Regions from separate parts of the Homo sapiens genome. Here all the other regions are linked to region 2. Evidence: fine-mapped expression QTL. A gene starts in region 2. Each other region holds a variant in brackets. All regions are shown on one strand. Distances are between the middles of the regions. Region 1 has its middle 61 kb from the start of LINC01537. Region 2 holds the start of FOLR3 (folate receptor gamma). Region 3 overlaps FOLR1-AS1 (FOLR1 antisense RNA 1). Region 4 holds the start of LAMTOR1 (late endosomal/lysosomal adaptor, MAPK and MTOR activator 1).

Evidence for each region.
Region 1: its variant is fine-mapped to the expression of FOLR3 in whole blood (INTERVAL, PIP 0.95).
Region 3: its variant is fine-mapped to the expression of FOLR3 in whole blood (INTERVAL, PIP above 0.99).
Region 4: its variant is fine-mapped to the expression of FOLR3 in whole blood (INTERVAL, PIP 0.94).

What each region holds. Positions count from the first base shown.
Region 1 is chr11:72,507,434-72,512,632 of GRCh38, forward strand. No RefSeq gene overlaps it. Among named protein-coding and RNA genes, the nearest start is that of LINC01537, 61 kb to the right of the region's middle. The variant G/C (reference allele first, on the strand shown) is at 3,207.
Region 2 is chr11:72,133,004-72,138,202 of GRCh38, forward strand. It overlaps FOLR3 (folate receptor gamma), which reads left to right and starts at 2,722. Exons shown (of 5, transcript NM_000804.4): 1 at 2,722-2,765; 2 at 2,944-3,117. The coding sequence starts at 2,950.
Region 3 is chr11:72,159,312-72,164,510 of GRCh38, forward strand. FOLR1-AS1 (FOLR1 antisense RNA 1) reads right to left here. Exons shown (of 3, transcript NR_199595.1): 3 at 4,011-4,068. It also overlaps the pseudogene FOLR1P1. Among named protein-coding and RNA genes, the nearest start is that of FOLR3, 26 kb to the left of the region's middle. The variant G/A (reference allele first, on the strand shown) is at 3,096.
Region 4 is chr11:72,098,548-72,103,547 of GRCh38, forward strand. The region is part of intron 5 of LRTOMT (leucine rich transmembrane and O-methyltransferase domain containing); the gene reads left to right. LAMTOR1 (late endosomal/lysosomal adaptor, MAPK and MTOR activator 1) reads right to left here and starts at 4,750. Exons shown (of 5, transcript NM_017907.3): 1 at 4,636-4,750; 2 at 564-709; 3 at 234-311. The coding sequence starts at 4,677. RefSeq lists an enhancer at 4,456-4,535 and a silencer at 4,636-4,905. The variant G/A (reference allele first, on the strand shown) is at 2,999.

The DNA.
Region 1 (5,199 bases), 370 kb after region 2:
TTTCCCAAACTTTTATGCTCTGCTTCCTGTCTAAATATAAACTCCAAACTTAAGTCTTTTCTTTTCTCTCAAATCTGAGTGTAGGTTGTTCAAAGCAGCCAGGCCACATCTTGAACACTTTGCTGCTTAGAAATTTCTTCTGCCAAATACCCTAAATCAAGTTTGTCCAACCTGCAGCCTGCTGGCCGCATGTGACCCAGAATGACTTTGAGTGAAGCCCAATACAAATTCATAAACTTTCTTAAAACATTGTGAGTTTTTTGTGATTTTTTTTTTCTAGCTCATCAGCTATCGTTAGTGTTAGTGTATTTTATGTATGGTCCAAGAACAATTCTTCTTCCACTGTGGCCCAGGGAAGCCAAAAGATTGGATACCCTTGCCCTAAATCATCACTCTTTAGTTTAAACTTCCACAGATCCTTAGGACATGGACAAAATGGAGACAAGTTTTTTGCTAAGGCATAACACACATGACCTTTGCTCCAGTTCCCAATACGTTTCTCATTTCCATCTGAGACCTCATAAGCCTGGACTTCATCATCCATATTACTATTGTTGTAAGACTTTTCCTTAATTGAGTGAAAGATGGGGTCCTTGTCCATCCCACAGCCACAAAAATTTAGGCTCGTAGATGATTTGAAGGGTGAGTGAAGCAGGGTTTTACTGGGTTAAAAGGAAGAAAAGGGGGAAACAGGGACTCTCACTAGGCCAGAGTCCCTCCACTAGAGTGCTTCCTGCCCGGGTGATTGAATCCCAGGTTCCACACAGGAAGAGGAGGCACCAGGCTCCTCCCTGCTGCAAAGGTCATGAACTTCCTGAGGCTCCACCTCAGTGGGCAGGCTGGTTGGAGTTTCTCCAGGGACTCCCTCCCACCTGGCTGTCTCACTATCAGCATTTTGGTCACAATCATTTAACCAGTCTCTAAGAAGTTCTGGACTTCCCTTGGTCTTCCTCTCTTTTTCTGAGCCCTCCAAACTCTTCCAACCTCTGCCTGTTACCCATTTCCAAAGCTGCTTCCATGTTTTCAGGTATCTTTATAGCAAGGCCTCACTCCTCAGTAACAATTTTCTGTATTAGGCCATTCTTGCATTGCTATAAAGAAATACCTGAGACTGGGTCACTTATAAAGAAAAGAGGTTTCATTGGCTCATAGTTCTGCAGGTTTTACAGAAAGGATGGTGCTGGTATCTGCTTGGCTCTGTTGAACTGTTGAGGAGCATTCAATCACGGTGGAAGGTGAAAGGGGAACAGGCAGGTCACATGGTGAAAGCAGGAACAAGTGAGAGTGTAGGGGGAGGTCCACTTTTAAATGGCCAGATCTTGGCAAGAACTCACTATTGCAAAGACACCACCAAGCCGTGAGGGATCCACCCCCATGACCAAAACCCCTCCCACCAGGCCCCACTTACAGCATTGGGGATTACAATTCAACATGAGATTTGGGCAGGGACAAATATCCAAACTACATTAGCTGGATATGAAATTCTTGGTTGGAATTTCTTTTCTTTAAGAATGCTGAATAGGCCGGGCACGATGGCTCATGCCTGTAATCCCAGCACTTTGGGAGGCCGAGGTGGGCAGATCATGACGTCAGGAGATCGAGACCATCCTGGCTAGCATGGTGAAATCCGTCTCCACTAAAAATACAAAAAATTAGCCGGGTGTGGTGGCAGGCGCCTGTAGTCCCAGCTACTTGGGAGGCTGAGGCAGGAGAATGGTGTGAACCCAGCAGGCAGAGCTTGCAGTGAGCCGAGATTACACCACTGCACTCCAGCCTGGGCAACAATGCAAGACTCCATCTCAAAAAATAAATAAATATATAAAAGAATGCTGAATATAGGCCACCAATCTCTTCTGGCTTGTAGAGTTTCTACTGACAGGTTCACTGTTAGCCTGATGAGGTTCCCTTTGTTGATGACCTGCCCTTTCTCTCTAGCTGCCTTAAACATTTTTTCTTTCATTTCAACTTTGGAGAATCTGATGACTATGTGTCTTAGGGATGGTCATCTTATACAGTACCTCACAGGGGTTCTCTGCATTTCCTGAATTTGACTGTTGGCCTCTGTAGCGAGGTTGGAAAGATTTTCAAGAATGATATCTTCAGATATGTTTTCCAAGTTGTTTGCTTTTTCTCCCTCTCTTTCAGGGATGCCAATGAGTCATAGATTTGGTCTCTTTACATAATACCATCTTTCTCAGAGATTTTGTTCATTCTTTTTTATTTCTTCACTTTTGTCTGACTGAGTTACATTGGAGGACTGGCCTTCAAGCTCTGAGATTCTTTCCTCAGCTTGGTTTATTCTGCTATCAATATTTGTAATTATGAAATTCTTGAAGTAAGGTTTTCAGCTCAATCATATCAGTTTGATTCTTTCTTCAAATGGCCATTTCATCTTTCAGTTCCTGTGTTGTTTTATTATATTCCTTAGATTCCTTGGATTGGGTTCTGACTTTCTCCTGAATCTCAATGATCTTCATTCCTATCCATGTTCTGAATTCTGTATCTGTCATTTCAGCCTAATTAAGAACCATTCCTGGGGAAGTAGTGCCATTATTTGGAGGTAAGAGGACATTTTGGCTTTTTGACTTGCCAGAGTTCTTGCACTGGTTCTTTCTCGTTTATGTGGGCTGATATTCCTTCAATCTTTGAAGTTGCTGTCCTTTGGATAGAATTTTTTGTTTTTATCTTCTTTGATCCCCTTGGGGGTTTGATTGTGGTATAAAGTGGGTTTAGTTGACTGGCTTCATTTCTGAAAGATTTTCGGAGGCCCAGTCTCAGCTCAGTAGTCCTGGGAAGCATGCTCTGGGAGGCTGGTACTGGGCTCTTGGCTTTATTCTCTGGCCTCTTGAGGTTAGGAACCTGCTGTACTGAAGGGGCCACAGTGCTCCTGATCCACTGGCCACAACACTCCAATGAGTGGTGCCAGCTAAAGAACTTTGTTGGGGCAGTGGCAGCGGGATCCATGCTCCCCTGCATGTGCCAGTAACTGTGGCAGTGTGGTGGGGGTACACGTGCATTGTCTGAGGCAGGGCATTAGCTGGAGCAGGGTGGCAGTGTTCCTGCATGTGCTTACACCAGTAGTGGGTGCAGCATGGTGGGGATGGGACACTGGTAGGGGTGGGATTGCTGGTGTCTGTGTGTGCATTTGTGCCAGCAGTGGTGGTACAGCAGGGTGCCCATGTGTTAGTGGAGGGAGGGGTGGTAGG[G/C]TGCACTAGTGTTGGCAGTGGTGACATGGTGGGGTGCATGCGCACATTCACTGACAGTGGAGTGGGGTGAGGTCCACCTATGCATGCCTGCTGGCAAAGTGGTGGAGCAGGGGCTGTAGACAAATGTGTGCTGGCAAAGTGGCAGGGGGAGTCAATGGTGGAGGGAGACTGTGTGTGGACTGATGTGCATTGGCAGGGGCCCATCTGCTGGAGCTCTCCAACAGCGAGGTGTGGTCTGACAATGAAGAAGTTATGATGAGGTTCCCTGGATATAGCAGTTGGGCATCCAAAGTTGTGCTGCAAGTGAGAATGGGCAGGCTGGGTCCCCAGGCGACGCCAGCAGACAGAGGGGTGCTCAGATAAAATTGGCCCTGTCCCACAGGCAAGACTGCCCTGCTCTGTCCAGTTCTGACAGTCACCCTAAGGCTAAAGTCTCCTGAAGGAGCATGGTGAGCCTTGGGGGATGAGAATCCCTGGCCATGCTCCACTGCAAATGTTCCCACATCAAACACTGTTGGCTCCACACAGGCTGGAGTCCTGCCCTAACTGCCTCTCTAAGTAGCTCTTGCTGCCAGCTTAAGTGTCCATGGGGGTCATGGGGTCTCCTGCTGCTAGGATTCTGGAGGTCTGTGGCAAGAATGGGCCACTCCTCAACTGTTCAATTCATCTCTTCTCCAGGAGTCACTCAGGAATGAGTCCCAGTGCACAACAGCCCCATACAGGGTTCCCAGCATCATCCCCCTTCAGCTCAGTGTCTGAGTCCTACTTCCATCCATTCTCAAAGCCTTCCCTCTGAAGATCTGCTTGGAGTGTGCCATTCTTCCTGATGTCCCAGTCTCTTGGTTGGGAGATCTTCTCCTGGCTGTGTTTAGTCAGCCATCTTGGCTCCAAACTCTCCATTGTTTCTGATGAGAAATCAGCTGCTTATCTTAATCTGGTTCACTCATATGTGATGAGTCATTTTGCTCTTGTTGCTTTCAAGACATTCTTTTTGCCTTTCAATAGTTTGACTATGGTATTTTTAGTTGACAGTCTCTTTGTGTTTATCCTACTTAGAATTCTCTGACCTTATTGGATGTGTAGATTAATGTTTTTCATCAAATTTGGACTTTTTTTTAGTATTGATTTCTTCAAATATTTTTTCTGATCTTTTCTCTCTCTTTCTCCTTCTGGGACTCCTATTATACATTTGTTGGTATGTTTTATGTGTCCATAAAACATACAAGTCTTTGAGGCAATGTTCATTTTTCTTCATTGTTTTTCCTTTCTGTTCTTCCATTTGGATGATCTCTATAGACCTGTTTTTAAGTTCACTTACCTTTTCTTCTGCTAGCACAAATATACTGTTCAATCCCTCTAGAGAAATTTTTATTTCAGCTATTATATTTTTCACCTCCAGAATTTCTAGCTGTTTTTTTTTTTTTTTTTTTTTAGACAGAGTCTCACTCTGTCACCCAGGCTGGAGTGCAGTAGCACAATCTCGGCTCACTACAAGCTACAAGCTCCGCCTCCTGGGTTCACGCCATTCTCCTGCCTCAGCCTCCTGAGTAGCTGGGACTACAGGTGCCCGCCACCATGTCCAGCTAATTTTTTTTTGTATTTTTAGTAGAGATGAGGTTTCACCGGGTTAGCCAGGATGGTCTCTCTCTCTCCTGACCTCTTGATCTGCCTGCCTCAGCCTCCCAAAGTGCTGGGATTACAGGCATGAGCCACCACGCCTGGCCTCTAGTTGGTTTTTTAAAATAACTTTATCTTTTTGTTGAATTCTATAACTGAGACGTTGTTCTCATGCTTTACTTCTTTAAACAAGGTTTCTTTAGTTCTTTAAACATATTTATAGCAGTTGCTTTCAAATTTTTGTCTGCTAAGTTCAACATCTGTATGCTCTCACAGATAGTTTCTGCTGTCTGCTTTTCCCTCGTGTGTGGTCATATCTTCCTGTTTCTCTTTGTATCTTATGATTTTATTTTATTTTATTTTATTTTTGACAGAG
Region 2 (5,199 bases):
CCAAGATGTTGTGAGTCAGGAATTTGGCCAAAACTCAGGTGGGCGATTCTTCTGCAAAGACCCCCACAACACATTCAAAGTCACAGGCAGAGGTTGTTGGGGGAGGGCATTGAAAAGAAGAGAAGAGTCATAGGTGGGTGCAATGGAGGGAGGGCAGAGGGCTGCTGACTATGGTGCAGGACTCATCCATAATGGAGCCCTGGGGAGGCAAGGGCTTCATAACTAGACACTGGTCTTGTCACCTCAGACTCACCTGTAGCAGGACCAGATACTGAGGTCAGACTGAAAACACAGGCTCTGCCTCAGGAGAGGCTCTCTACTAGCTGAGTAAATGATGACAGTATTGGAAATGTTCCCAACATCATAATGGGAAAACATCACTTCACACTACATAAGCAATACACAGGGGCAGTGCCGGTCGTCTTCCCAGGTTAGTAGCAGTTCTACTGCCTCCAAGAGTGTTGGAGAAATACAAACCAAGCATTAGGCACTTTTAACTTGAAAACATGAAGTTCTCTTTCCTAACTTTCTTTGTTTCCTTATTTCTTCTTCTTCTTCTTCTCCTTCTTCTTCTTCTTCTTCTTCTTCTTCTTCTTCTTCTTCTTCTTCTTCCTCTTCTTCTTCTTCTTCTTCTTTCTTCTTCTTCTCCTTCTCCTTTTCCTTCTTCTTTTTTTGCTGAGACAGGGTCTCACTCTGACAGTACAGTGGTGCCATCACAGCTCACTGCAGCCTCGACCTCCAGGGCTCAAGCAATCCTCCCAGCTCACCCTCCCAAATGGCTGAAACTACAAGCTCGCACCACCATACGTGGCTAATTTTTCTATTTTTGTGTGCAGATGAAGTTTTCCTATGTTGCCCAAGTGGTCTCAAACTCCTGGGATCAAGTGATCCATCCACCTCAACCTCCCAAAACGCTGGGATTACAGGTGTAAGCCACCACACCCAGCCCACTAACTTTTTTATATCGGCTAATGAAATAGTTTTAAGTTTAGACCCTACGAGGCATAAAGAAATAATTTTAGTTATGTTATCAGATGTACAGTAATACTCAAGTGTGCAACTGTGGATAACTTGAGTTCATGAGGTTTTTGTTTTTTTGTCAAAAGAATAAATTTATAGTGAAACTACCCAAAAAAGCAAAGTACAGAACAGTATGCTACCATTTGTGCACAGAAATGGGATATATATGGTGTAACTGCATCGAATTTACTGGATGTATGTCCAGGGACCAGAACTCTTGGTGGCTTCATGTTCATACTTTTGCAAGCACATGTGTAGTATCCTTAACTTAAAGGTACTGTTGTATACATTCTAGTGTTATCAAAATTTACATACATATTATCAAGTCAGAGAGGTCATTCTGTGTCTTAGTATTTTCACTTCATATTTGGTATATTTATGTATGTATACACACATACCTATATGTATTTAAATAAGATTTATAGTCACATGGTCCAAAAATCAAAACAATGTGGAAAGGTTTACAGAGAAAAGTCTCAAGCCTAATCCTGTTCTCTACTGCCAGGTGACCATGTTATTAATTTCTTTTCATACCTTGCCACAGAATTTTCACCTGCAAACACAGATATTCTTTTCTTTTTTAATGACAGAGTCACGTTCTGTTATCCAGGCTGGAGTGCAGTGGCGTGATCTTGGCTCACTGCAAACTCCTCCCGGGTTCAAGTGATTCTCCTGTCTCAGCCTCCTGAGTAGCTGGGATTACAGGCATGTGCCACCACACCCAGCTAATTTTTGTATTTTTAGTACAGATGGGGTTTTATCATATTGACCAGGCTGATGTCGAACTCCTGACCTCAAGTGATCCGCCTGCCTCGGCCTCCCACAGTGCTGGGATTACAGGCGTGAGCCACCACGCCCAGTCAACACAGACATTCTTACTCCTTTTTTACAGAGAATTTATTATTATTATTTTTTACATAGCATTTTTCTGCACCTTTCTTTTTCCACTTAACAATGCACTTGAAGATTTTTCCATATTTGTACATCAGGAGCTTTCTCTTTCTTTGTTACCACATTAAATTCCACTGGGTAGATGTACCATAATTTAACTGGGTCCTTATTGAAAGACAATTGAGCTGTCTCCTAGACAAAGCCTTGTGCACCTTCCCGAACAGAGGGTCTAACCAAGCAGGCAGGATGGGGTTATAAAGTAGGTGGGGAGGTGGGAGAGACTCCACCTTCCCAGGTGGGCTGAGAATGGAGGTAAGGCCCTGCAACAGGACAGAGGGAAAAGTGGGGATGAGAGGTGGGAGGCGAGATAGCGCCCACTGTTCTCGCTCAGCCCCCTCCTCCGTTTGCCGCTGACCTGTTGGCCTCCCCCAACCTCTGAGCCTGCCTCTGCCTAGGTAATTTCCCAAGACCCAGAAGGGGTGAAGGGTGAGGTGTGATTGCCCCCACCTCCTTGCCTCCCGCAGCATCTGCTCCGGGACCATGAACAATAGCTGACAGCTCCATGGCCCTTGCTGTCCCCATCTCAGCTTCCCTGGGCATCTAAACCTCAGCTGCCATGGGGTAGGAGGACAGGCTGAGGAAGCAGAAGCCTGAGGCTGTCTAGAGTCTCACTCCTGCATCAGCAGGCCACCACCTGTGGTTCCTCCTTGTGCAAATTTGAAAAGAATTGCATAAAACACTGGAGAAATCCAAGAGGGGAAGTCCACAAGGGCGGTGGCTCCCTACAAGGTCACAGAGCAAGCTGGTGTCAGAGCCTGGACCTACAGCGCTGTTGGTGGAGGTCCTGCCTCCAGGTAGGGGAAGGGCTCCCTCTCACCTCTACACGCAGCGCATTTCTTGGCTCAGCTGCCCTGTAGGGGATGCAGGGTGGGGACAGCAGAGATCTGGGCCTGGGAGGGAGAGAGTACACAATCACATGGCTGTTGCCCCTGTCTCAGGCCTTGTCTACCTCTGACTGTGGCTCTCTGGCAGGAATAGATGGACATGGCCTGGCAGATGATGCAGCTGCTGCTTCTGGCTTTGGTGACTGCTGCGGGGAGTGCCCAGCCCAGGAGTGCGCGGGCCAGGACGGACCTGCTCAATGTCTGCATGAACGCCAAGCACCACAAGACACAGCCCAGCCCCGAGGACGAGCTGTATGGCCAGGTGAGGGCAGCCTGGTGTAGGACAGCATGCACACAGGTCAGAGGGTGATGGCACGAGCAATGGCAGGTCCAGTGTGGTCAGAACCAAGGGTGCCGCTGCTGACAAGGAAGGGGAGGGGCGGCCAGGGCCACCATGCCACAGGTAAGGCCACTGAGGCAGCTTGGGGAATATGAGCTCCAATTTGAACTCCAGGCTCAGGAGTGTGCTTGTATTTCATTCCTCTGGTCTCCTGGCCTGCTCCCTACAAGGTTTCACATTCCCAGAGGGCTGGGGATGTGCCTAGGGAGAGACTGTGGCGTGGACACAATCTGTGGGTTAAAGCGAAGACAGGACAGCCTGGAAGCCCCATGACATCTGAGTCACTCCCAACATTCCATTTGCTTATTTTTAAATCGGGGTTAAAAAAAAAAAACAAATACATAACATACATTTTCCACTTTAGCCATTTTTAACTGTACGGTTCAGTGGCATTAGGTATGCTCATGTGGTTGTGCAACCATCACCACCATCCATCTCCTGACCTCTTTCATTCTCCAAAACTGAAATGGAAACTCTGTGCCCACCACTTCATTTGCTTTTCAGAACCTTCTAGAGCACATCCTCCTTGCCAGGAAATGGTGTGGATGTAGACCTTTGAGAGAGACAGATGACTATCATTCTCAGGGCCATGAGCTATATGAGAGTGATGATATTTGTTGAGCCCTTACTATAGCAAGGGAGTTCTTCTCATTGTACTCAGTAACTCTTTTGGAGGCAACAACCCTTGACCCTGACAGGCAGGACCCATGTCTGCCAAACCCTAAGACCCATGATGTGCAAGGGGTCTTGCAGGAAGACCAAGAGTTGGAACATCCAAGGAAAAGCAAGTGTGAAGTCGGGCTGGCAGGGAAGCATGTTCTGTGTCAGCCGGCACTGGGCGTGGGCCAGGGTGTGGGAGGTGGGTAGGTCTGGCTCCCCTCCCATGGATTTCCCTATTGTTTCTCCTGGGTGCTCAGGCCTGTCACGCCTCTGCCATCACTTGACCCTAGGTGCAAGGGTTCAGCCCAGAAATTTTATGCAATTGATTCATGATTTCTCAGGTTTTCTGAGTCCTGGCCTAGAGTGACTTCCCAAGAAAAAACTCCACCATTTCTGCTTGTCTTACCTGCCTTGTATTTACCTTTCTAGGATTGCCTTTTCCACATTTAGTCAAGTCTAGGTTCAGACCCACGTGCAGGCTATAGCTCCTTCGTTCTCCACCACTCTCAGGATCTATCTAGAGTCTCCCCACCTGGACCTCCAGACCCTGGGAGAGCCAGACCAGCCCCTTGACCTCCACCCTCCCCCACAACCTGGGCCAGGTTCCTCTCCTCCCTGTCCTCAGTTATAATTTTTTTTTTTTTTAATTTGAGGCAGAGTTTCGCTCTTGTTGCCCAGGCTGGAATGCAATGGCATGATCTTGGCTCACTGCAACCTCTGCCTCCTGGGTTCAAGTGATTCTCCTGCCTCTGCCTCCTGAGTAGCTGGGATTACAGGCGCCTACCACTGTGCCTGGCTAATTTTTTGGTATTTTTAGTAGAGACAGGGTTTCTCTGTGTTGGTCAGGCTGGTCTCGAACTTCTAACCTCAGGTGATCCGCCCGCCTCCTTAAATCTTAACCTCACTGTTTACCATGGGTGTAGCTTACTTAAACTCTGTAAAAATGGGGGTAAGGATTCGTACTGGGTTGTTGAGAGGATAAAGCGCAAAAGCCTCAGGGACTTTGCACCTATGGTTTTCTATGCCTAGAGTGTTCTTTGTCTCCCTTCTACACACAGCCCACCCACCCACTAAAACCATACCCTCCCTGAGGGTAGAGGTGTTATTTGTTTTCTTCACTGTGGTGTTCCTAGGACCTAGCACAGTGCCTGATGTATAATCAGCACTCAGTTAATATTGGCTGGATGCAAAATGAATAATATAAATAAGCTGAATAACATGAAATAGGCCGAACGCGGTGACTCACGCCTGTAATCCCAACACTTTGGGAGGCCAAGGAGGGTGGATCACCTGAGGTCAGGAGTTCGAGACCAGCCTGGCAAACATGGTGAACCCCCGTCTCTA
Region 3 (5,199 bases), 26 kb after region 2:
GAGGGCTGGGGTGGGCAGGAAAGGAGGGATTTGGAAGTGAAGGTGTGTGGGTGTGGAACAGGTGTGTGACATTTTGGGGTTGTAGGGCTGGCAGAATCAGAGACCCTTTGGGGCCCAGTGGCTAAAGGTCTTCCCTCTTCCCTACAGGGTCTAACAAGTGCCAGGTGGCAGCTGCCTGACTACCTTTCCATCTCTACTTTCTCACACCCACTGCTCTGTGCAGTGAAATCTGGACTCACTCCTACAGGGTCAGCAACTACAACCGAGGGAGCAGCCGCTGCATCCAGATGTGGTTCGACCTGGCCCAGGGCAACCCCAATGAGGAGGTGGCAAGGTTCTATGCTGCAGCTCTGAGTGGGGCTGGGCCCTGGGCAGCCTGGCCTCTCCTGCTCAACCTGGCCCTAATGCTGCTGTGGCTGCTCAGCTGACCTCCTTTTACCTTCTGATACTTGGACATCCCTGCCCTGTTTAGCCCCACAGCTCCCAACTATTTGGTTCCTCTTCTATGGTCTTGTCTCTGACAGCCACTTTGAATAAACCAGACACCACACATGTATCTTGAGAATTATTTGGGTATGAATGGGAATGTGGCTGTTTTGTTTCCCATTTCTTATTGATTGAAGCCAGTTAGACTGGGCTAGTTCCCAGCTCTGATGCTTGCTATGAACTAGCCTGATACTTAAGTATTCTTCTAAGGTAGGAGACATTTGTAGCTCTCGATTTTATTATTCACTATAGCTCCAATTTAGAGCCAAGCCCAGGCATTTTTCTTTTTTTGAGACAGGGTCTCACTCTCTCACCCAGGTTGGAATGGAGTGGCATGATCTCAGCTCACTGCAACGTCTGCCTCGTGGGCTCAAGTGATCCTCCCACCTCAGCATCCCAAATACTTGGGACTACAAGCATGTGCCACCACACCTGGCTAATTTTTCAATTTTTTGTAGAGAGGAAATCTTGCAATGTTGTCCAGGCTGGTCTCAAACTACTGGGCTCAAGCAATCCTCCTACCTCAGCCTCCTGAGTAGCTGGGTCTACAGGTGTGAGCCTCCACATTCAGCTAATACATATAATATAAAACATGTATTATATATGTAATAGTAGAGACAGGGTCTCACTATTTTACCCAGGTTGTTCTCAAACTCCTGCGCTGGAGTGATCCTCCCAAAATGCTGGGATTACAGGCATGAGTCACTGCATCTGGCCACAAGTCATGTTTATTTCTTGCTCAAGCTACAATGCTGAATGTGGGTTATCAGGGGGATTCTGTTTATTTCTCATTCCTGGACTACATTAGCAGCCAGGGGGTTCTGCTTCTCACTCAAGAACCCACGCTGATGGAGGCTCCATCTTCCATGAGACAGGAAGAGGGAACTTGGCAAATTCCATAAGGCTCTTCAAATTTCCACCCATCACTTATTTCATTGGCCAAATCAAGTCATGAGCATGCCTAAATTCAAGAAAGCCAGGAAAACATAATCCTATCATGTACTTGCAAGGAGAGGGGAATCACAAGGTTTGCAACAGACCTAATCATGAGTAAAAAGACTTCATTATTTTCTCGTAGATTTCTGTTTCTGGCATGGTCATAGTTACAAATTTAATTTTTTGGTTAGATCCTAGTAAGAAGGAGGACCAACTCTCTATACATATGCAAATAACTACATCAACCTGAAAAGTGGAGCAATCCACTGATGACCGCCCTGGCTAGTCTTGTAAACAAGGCCAATTGATGCCTTTTCGCCCTTCATTTATTTCTATTTATTATTTTTATTTTTTGAGACAGGGTCTCTTTCTGTTGCTCAGGCTGGAGTGCAGTGGCACAGTCATGGCTCACTGCAGTCTTGACCTCCTGAGCTCAATTGATCCCTCAACTTTAGCCTCCCAAGTAGCTGGGACTACAGGCACATGCCACCATGCTGGGCAAATGTTTTGTATTTTTTTTGTAGAGATGGGGTTTTGCCATGTTGCCCAAGCTGGTCTTGAACTGCTGCGCCCAAGTGATTCATTCACCCACCTTGACCTCCTAAAGTGCTGGGATTAGAGGCGTGAGACACCTCTGCCAGCCCACTGATTTCTTTTTTGAACCGAAAGCATAGTTGATCAATGCAAAAGCTAATAATTGGATATTAACAAAATTCAAAACTCTTGCACTTTAAAAGACACCCTTAAGAAAATTAAAAAACAAGCAACAGACTGGAAGGAAATATTTGCAAACACATCTGATAAAGGATCTGTATCCATAAAATACAAAGAACACTTACAACTCAGTAACAAGAAGGCAGACAACCCAATCAAATAATGGGCAAAAGAAATGAACAAATATGTCATTAAAGAAGGTACACAAATTATGAATAGTTACACGAAAAGATGCTCAACATTATTAATCATTAGAAAAATGGAAACTAAAACCATAGTGATAGACGGTTTTATACCTACTAGAATGGCAATAATAATAATGATAGGCAATAACAAGCATTGGCAAGGATGTGGAGAAATGGGAACCCTCACACAGTGCTGGTGGGGATGTAAAATGGTACAGCCCTTCGGAAAACAGTGTGGCAGTTTCTCAAAAAGTTAAATGTAAAACTGCCATACAACCCAAAATTCCACTCCCAGGTGTCTACTCAGGAGAAACGAAAACAAACATAACAAAACTTAAATATGAATATTAATAATAATCATATTTATGTATGTAAATATGATGTATCATTTATGTATGTAAATATGATATATCATATTATGTATCATTATATATAATAGCCCCAAGCTGGCAATAACCTAAATTTTTAGCAGCTGGTGAGTAGATAGACAAAATGTGGTGAATCCATACAATAGAAGACTGTGCAGCAATGAAACGTGATGACACATGCTATGTCGTGGATGAGCGTCAAAAACATTATGTTAAGTGAAAGAAGCCAGACCTAAGAGGCTTCATGTGGCATGATTTCACTTACATGAAATGTGCAGGGAAGGCAAATTTATAGAGGCAGAAAGTAGATTAGTAGTTGCCTGGGGCTGGAAGTGACAACAGGGATTAATTGTAAATGGGCATGAGGGGGGATAAGAATTGAGGGGATGATTCTGAGTTTCTGTGG[G/A]GTGTATCCATGAGGGAAAGTATTCTAAGGAAATTGGCATGTGGCTCCATAAAAATCTATCATCTGAGACAAACTCCATTCCCATCATGAACTTTAAAATATTGGTTGGAAGCCAAGCATGGTGGCTCATACCTGTAATTCCAGCACTTTGGGAGGCCAAGGCAGGTAGATCACTTGAGCCAGGGATTCTAGAACAGCTTGGGCAACATGGTGAAACCCCGTCTCTACATAAAAATACAAAAAATTTAGCCCAGTGTGGTGGTCCACGCCTGTAGTCCTAGCTATGCAGGAAGCTGAGATGGGAGGATCTCTTTAGCTCAGGAGGTAGAGGCTGCAGTGGGCTATGACTGTGCCACTGCAGTCCAGCCTGGGTTGATAGAGTGAGACCCTGTCTCAAAAAAAAAAAAAAAAAAAAATAGGAATTGCTGGATGGTAATGTTGTAGGAGTTTCTCCTCAGTTCAGCCAAAGACAGGGTCCTTGTCACCTGGCCATGAAATATTAGGCTTGCAGACACTTTGAAGGGTGAGAAAAATGGAATTTATTGGGCAAAAAAAAAAAGCGGGGAAACGGGGACCCTCGGCAGAGTGAGAGTCCTGCTAGTACACGCTTCCCACCTCTCAGGTTGAATCCCAGGTTCCACCCTGGAAGAGGAGGGGCCAGGCTCCTCAGCACGAACTTCCAGAGGCTCCACCCCAGTGCACATTCCTCCCAGTGTGCGGGTTTGTCAGAGGTTCTCTGGGGACCCCTTTACACTTGGCTGTCTCATTCCCCCCTCTCAAGAAGTACATCAAACTACTGTTAGAACAAGGATAGGGGTGAGGACGAAGACCGATCTAAACTGCTTCCTGCTAACAGGGAGCGGTGTTTTGGGAAACGGCAGTCAGAGCTCCCTCAGAAGCCTATCTAAGGGTTCCCGGCAGAAGGCGCCATCTTCCGAGGCTCCGGTTGCACGACCATTTGGAGTTTGATGGCCTGAAGGCAAGAGGAGAAAAACCAGGTTATTAGAAAACATGTGTTAAAACGAAACAAGGGAGGGTAAGGACAGCTTAAAATCCCTAGGCCTTTTACCAGTTTGCACAGGGAGAGGGAAACCAAAAGCCCGACTGGTAAAAAAAACTTTACCCTTTTGCCAGCATGTCATGCTTGTGGGTTCCCTTCCTCTGAGCCCAATCCTAAGCCAACCAGCTGAAGGTTTGGGAAATTAACTCTTTCCAGTTTGGAGGATGCATCTGAGGGGAGTGTCCTATAGTACAAAGACACAATTACCTATTAGTGAAGAGAAGACAGTGGAGAAGAAAGGAAAAAAAGGTGCTTTTTAAAGGAGTCCCAGGGGTTCAGCATGCATTCAAAAGGGGTACAGAGTGAAGATGAATGGCTACCCATCTAGAAAGAGGGGAGCAGGCATCCCTGTCTCCTATCTCTTTCTAGCAGATACCAGGGGTACATGAGGGAGAGAAGGAAGAGCGTCCTCTTTCCCTCTTCTGTCCTTGCATACCCAAGTCCTGGTGACCTTGGCAGGTGCTGCCATGGGTGCCACAGCAGCTTGCACCCATGAAGCAGGGAGTACCTAGAGAATAGGAATTATCAGCCAGACTCAGTGGCTCACGCCTGTACAACCCAGCACCTTGGGAGGCCGAGGTGGGCAGATCATGATTTCAGGAGTTTGAGACCAGCCTGGCCAACATGGTGAAACCCCGTCTCTACTAAAAATACAAAACTTAGCTGGGTGTGGTGGTGCATGCCTGTAGTCCCAGCTACTCGGGAGGCTGAGGCAGGAGAATCACTTGGTCCCAGGAGGCAAAGGTTGCAGTGAGCCAAGATCACACCACTGCACTCCAGCCTGGGCAACAGAGTAAGACTCCATCTCGGGGAAAAAAAAAGAGAGAATAGGAATTATCCGCTCTTACCTATGTTTCTATACCCCCTACAGTCAGTAGTCTTGGAGTTTCCTAGACCTCATTTATGCTGTGGGGAAAAGCAAGAGAGATCAGATTGTTACTCTGTCTGTGTAGAAAGAAGTAGACATAGGAGACTCCATTTTGTTATGTACTAAGAAAAATTCTTCTGCCTTGAGATTCTGTTAATCTATAACCTTACCCCCAA
Region 4 (5,000 bases), 35 kb before region 2:
TCATCACAGACTCAATCTAGGCCCATCTCCCTTGGCCTCAGCGCCCTCAAGAGTGTCACAGGGTAAACAGGGCTGACATGAATAACTACTGAAGCACCCAAGTGATCTGTGGTCAGTCTCCAGGGCTGCACCAAATGAGAAGCTTGGACTAGGGGCCAGGCTCCAAAGCTGGAACAGTGATGGAGGGTGGGAGCCCAAGTAGCCTGAGGGACCCACGCTGGCCAGGTGCTCACCTGTACTGCCTGGCACGGTCCATGTACTCATGCTGCTCCATGCCCTGTGAGTCTGCAGCAGACACATCAATGATGTTGCTATGGGGAGAGGAGACAGAGATGACATGACAGGTGCTTCCGAGAAGGACAAACAGGACTCAGTGCCAGGTACCAACTCCAGGGCTATCTGACACCAGTTTCCCTCCTGCCTACTGGAGCAGGGCTGGACATGGAGGCACCTCTCCCCAGTGACCTTGTCCCATCCCCCATGTCCTGAGCCTGGCTCCTTCTATCCTAGCCTTTAATATGGATAGAGGAGCTCTGACCCAGGCCTGGTCCTCTGACACTTACCTGGCTGTCTTGGCAAGGATGGAAGAGAGCAGGGCCTGCTCATCAGTGCGAGCGGAAGGCAGGCTGTGGTAGTTGGGCTCGGCTCCATTGAGAGCTTTGGTAGGGGGGCTGCTAGGGTCCAGCAGCAGCTTCCGCTCCTCTCGGTCCTAGAAGTGGTCATGGGAGAGAAGTCAGCCCCAGGACCCGTAGATCCTGCCTTTCACGGGTGCTACCCTTAGCCCAGCTCTGACCTTAAACACCAAAAATGTTTCTATAAGGAATATCTAAAGTGCCCAGCTTTATGGAATGCCAGATAAGACTCAGTTCCTGCCTATCCTTGGGAGCTCAACTGAGTTGGTGTTCTAGGATAAATGAGAGTGGAACCAGGCAGTCCTAGAGGCCCTGAAAAAATGGACAGAGGCACAAAGCAGGTAGTCAGCAACAGCCCTGGAGCTTGAAAAACATTCTAGGACCTGGCAAAGAAAGGATACTAGAGGCTGGAAGACAGTGGAGCTGAGACATAGCAAGCACTGGGATCTAAAGGGGAAATCAGTGCAAGTCAAGAGCCCAAGAACAGCCTTCCTCATCCCCTAGGACCAGGCCTTCCCCAGCAAAGCTGTTCGCTTCCAAGATGGAAGCCCTGGCGAGTCCAGACAAAGCCCTAGGCCCCAAGAGAAAGCAAGCCCAACCTCTCCATGGCCATTTCTCAAATTATGTCAGGGCAGGAATCCCAGCCCAGCTCTGGGTCACACAGTACAAGTGTGTTCCCTTCTTGAAGGCAGGTCCCTTCGAAGGTGTTCACCCTCCTGTGCTCTGGTGCTCTTTTTGTACGTGACTCCCAGAACCAAACTGAGTGTACATGGTGTATCCTGATCTGAGCAGTACAGCTGTAGCCATGTATGGTGATTCACACCAGTAATCCCAACACTTTGGGAGCCCAAGGCAGAAGGATTGCTTGAGTCCAGGAGTTTGAGACCAGCCTGGGCAACAAAGCAAGACCTCGTCTTTGCAAAAAAAAAAAATTAGCTGGACTTGGTAGTGTGAGCCCTGCAGTCCCACCTACTTGGGAGGCTGAAGTGCAACGACTGTATGAACCCAGGGTTTGAGGCTGCAGTGAGCTAGGACTGTGCCACTGTACTCCAGTCTGGGCAAGAGAGCAAGACCCCATCTCAAAACAAACAACAATGGCGCTGTTCCCTCCCTTGCTAAACCACCTGAGTAGCCCATGTAAATTTTCAGCAGCCCTGTTCCTGCTGGCCTGTGCTGATAATCACAACCCCTGAACTAATGTAAGACCAAACCAAGCTTCCTCATTGGTTTGGTCTTCCTCCTTGTCCTCTTTCAGTCCCCTGTTCTATCTACTGTAATATTTCTGGATTTGACCCTGCCTTGAGACCATCAGCTGCAAATCCTTGCTTGCTGTATCAGCAGTAAATGAGAAAAACAGACCTGCTGGGTATCTATCCAACCCATAAAGAGCAAGAGTGCCCTGAACAAAGCCAAGGATGGGCCCAGGGGGACATCCTGGCTAATGCTGACTCACCAACCTTCAGTGCCAGACTCCTCAATGCTCCCCTCCAGGCCTATCTCAGTTCCTCAGTCTTTCCTGCTGCAGGCCGCAGCTCCCCTGCCCACAACTCCACAACTCTCCTTGTAGAGGGCTACTTCCTCCTGCCCTGCTTAGGGAGGCCCAGCCTTTTCACCTTACTCTTCTTTCTCAAGGCTAGGTTGCCCAAGTGTCCTCAGGCAATTTGATCCAGTTCCCAACAGCAAGAGACAGAAGCTGTGGGCTTTGCCCCATCACCTCTATAAACTCCCAGACACCCTTCCTCCCTAAATACATAGGCTCAGTATTAAAGAGCTAAAAAGACAAAATGTTTGCCAAAGATAAAACTATGTATTTCTAAGGAAAGCTGGCTCCATAATGAGGCCCAAGTTAGCTTCCTATGTGTCTGTCCTCCCAGCTCCACTTCAGACAGATCTTCCTGCAGGACAGGGTAGTCTCTTCCCTATCAGGGGTTCTTCAAGAAGAAGGTTGGCTGATCACTTCTCAGCCTTCAGCTAAGATCAAGTGAACAACAAGGTTATTTTCTTGAAACCCAGACTTAAAGAAGAGGCCATGCTACCTACTTCAGAGCAGACAAACATCACCCCACTCCCAAAGTGCGAGTGGAGCATGGGTTAGGTTTGTCACATCAAGGTTTGTCTCTGCATTAGTGTAACCCAAGAGGCAGGGTTTCACTGTCTACCTTAGCACAGACATAGCAGCCTGCCCGTGACTGGCCACCTGGTCTAGGGGCATGGCTGAGACAGCTTGGCCCCATGGATAAAGTACATGGCCTAGCGTCAGAACACCTGGGCACTAGCACTTCTCAGCTTGGCCAAATCACTTAGCTTCTCTGAACTTCTTCCTCACCTTTCAATAGACATAACCCACACTAATATGACGGATGTCT[G/A]GCAAGAGTCAAATTAGATAACTGTGAAGGCCCTTTGTAAACTGTAACGTGTTGTATATTTTTTATTATGATAAAGAGACAGAGATGAGAGTCGGAGAGGGGCCTGCCCAAGAACTCAAAGAGGGACTGTGGGATGGTGGATGGTTATGGCCCTTGCTACATGAGGCCTCAAATCACCCAGCAGTGATTAAGCACCTTCTCTGGGTGTTAGGAACAGAAATGAGAGCCCCCCAAGGAGAAGGTAGAGATTCAGGAGAGCAGCAGGCCCAGCTCTCCCTTCCAAGTAGAAGCTTGTATCCTTTCTCATACGGCATTAATCCTTCTTGACTCATTCCCTGCAAGAGTCCATATTATGCTTTAAGGGACAATTTCCCACTAGGCTACAGCTCTCCCAGTAGGCAGGGTTATTGTTGTCTCTTTCTCAAAAAGGTGGAAGTGAAGTGAGAGGTATTAGGCACAACACATGCCTAACACAGGGCAAAGGAAATATGTGTTCATTGGGTGTATGGAGAATTGAGAACCAGAAGCCACCCTTGCTTCCCATACAAACGACATTTTCCTAGGCTTAAGCCCTTAATCCAAAATACGTTCACTGAAGAACGAACTACTTCCCAAGTACCAGTGATATAATCTATTTTTGTGACCATCTTCCCCATTAGACCGTGAGCTACCTGAAACCTTTCTACTCTCTCAGGTCTACTATATGTTCAAATGTAGAATCCGGGCTTAGAGACGATCAAAAAAGGAGAGTAGACAGCAACTTGAGACTTCATCCTTGAATGTCAGGCCAGGCAGGGCAGGGATTAGAGTGTGGGGAGAAGTGAGAATGCACTAAGAGGAAGAGGGAGAATTTAAAACTGTACAGGTCTCCCCAGCCTAACCCTTTCTCCAAAGGTATCAGATCTACAGCCAAATTCTCAGAATAGGCATGTCTCCAGCTAAAGGAACCCTCAGGCCCCAGGCAGACTGCACTGAGGCAAGCCAAACTCAGAACCAAATGAACTTCCCGCTCCATTTCTCTTTTCCCACAATCTAGCCAAAGCTAAATCCTCTTTGTTGCTTCCCAGACAATTTCCCACATGTCCCGATGTCCTCACTGTATCGATTAAATCCTTCATTGGCCAATTCAAAGGCCACCAACTTCCAGAGTCGTCCCCTGGCCCTAGACTAGCAGCGACCTTCCTTCTGCAACCCCAGGGACTAAGACGATACACGAATTCCTGATTCATCTCAGGACAGACTAACTCAGGGCCTCAGCTTACCCACCCCTAAAATGGATTCGCAAAGCCCACTAATACACAGAAGACACAGGAAGCTGGGGAAGGGAGTGTTTCCCGGGGACCTAGACTGAGGATCCTTGAATCTGAAAAGTTTTGAAGGTAGGAGCAAACGGAAGTGGTGGGAGCGAGCCGGACAGGCGGCTGCCTGCACACCCCGAGGCGGGGACTGTGTAGAAATCTGGGGCTTTAACAGGGGTAGGAGCCCGGCTTGGCGTCTCCTCTGTAATCTGTCCCCTCCAGGCCTCCGTATTCAGTGAGCCCTGCAGTCCGGCTGCCCGTCCTCCGCAGGTTTCTTTCTGGGCCCCATGCCCCAGTGTCTTAGCCCTCATTCCCGAGCCCCGCCTGCCGCGGCCGCACCTGGTCCGAGTCCTCGTTCTCGCTGCTGTAGCAGCACCCCATGGCCGGGGTCGGGCCGGGCGCTCAGGCCGCGCCGAGGAGGGACGGCGTCCGTGAGGAGCCCTTCCGGTCACATGACCCGCGGCGGCCTCCCGCAGGCAACCACCCGCCCCCACCCCCCGTACCCCCTGTCCCGGAGCCGCTTGGCCGCCTCAGTCAATACCCCGGCTTCCGGTCCCGCCCGCTAGCGCGTGATCGTTGTCAACCAATGGGAAGGCGTAACCGTACACGCAAGCACGTGATGCGGGGAAAGGGCGGGGCGGATCACATGACTTCATCTTTCCAGTCTCTAAACTGGCAGTAGTGGCCATCGTGAATTGTGTTAT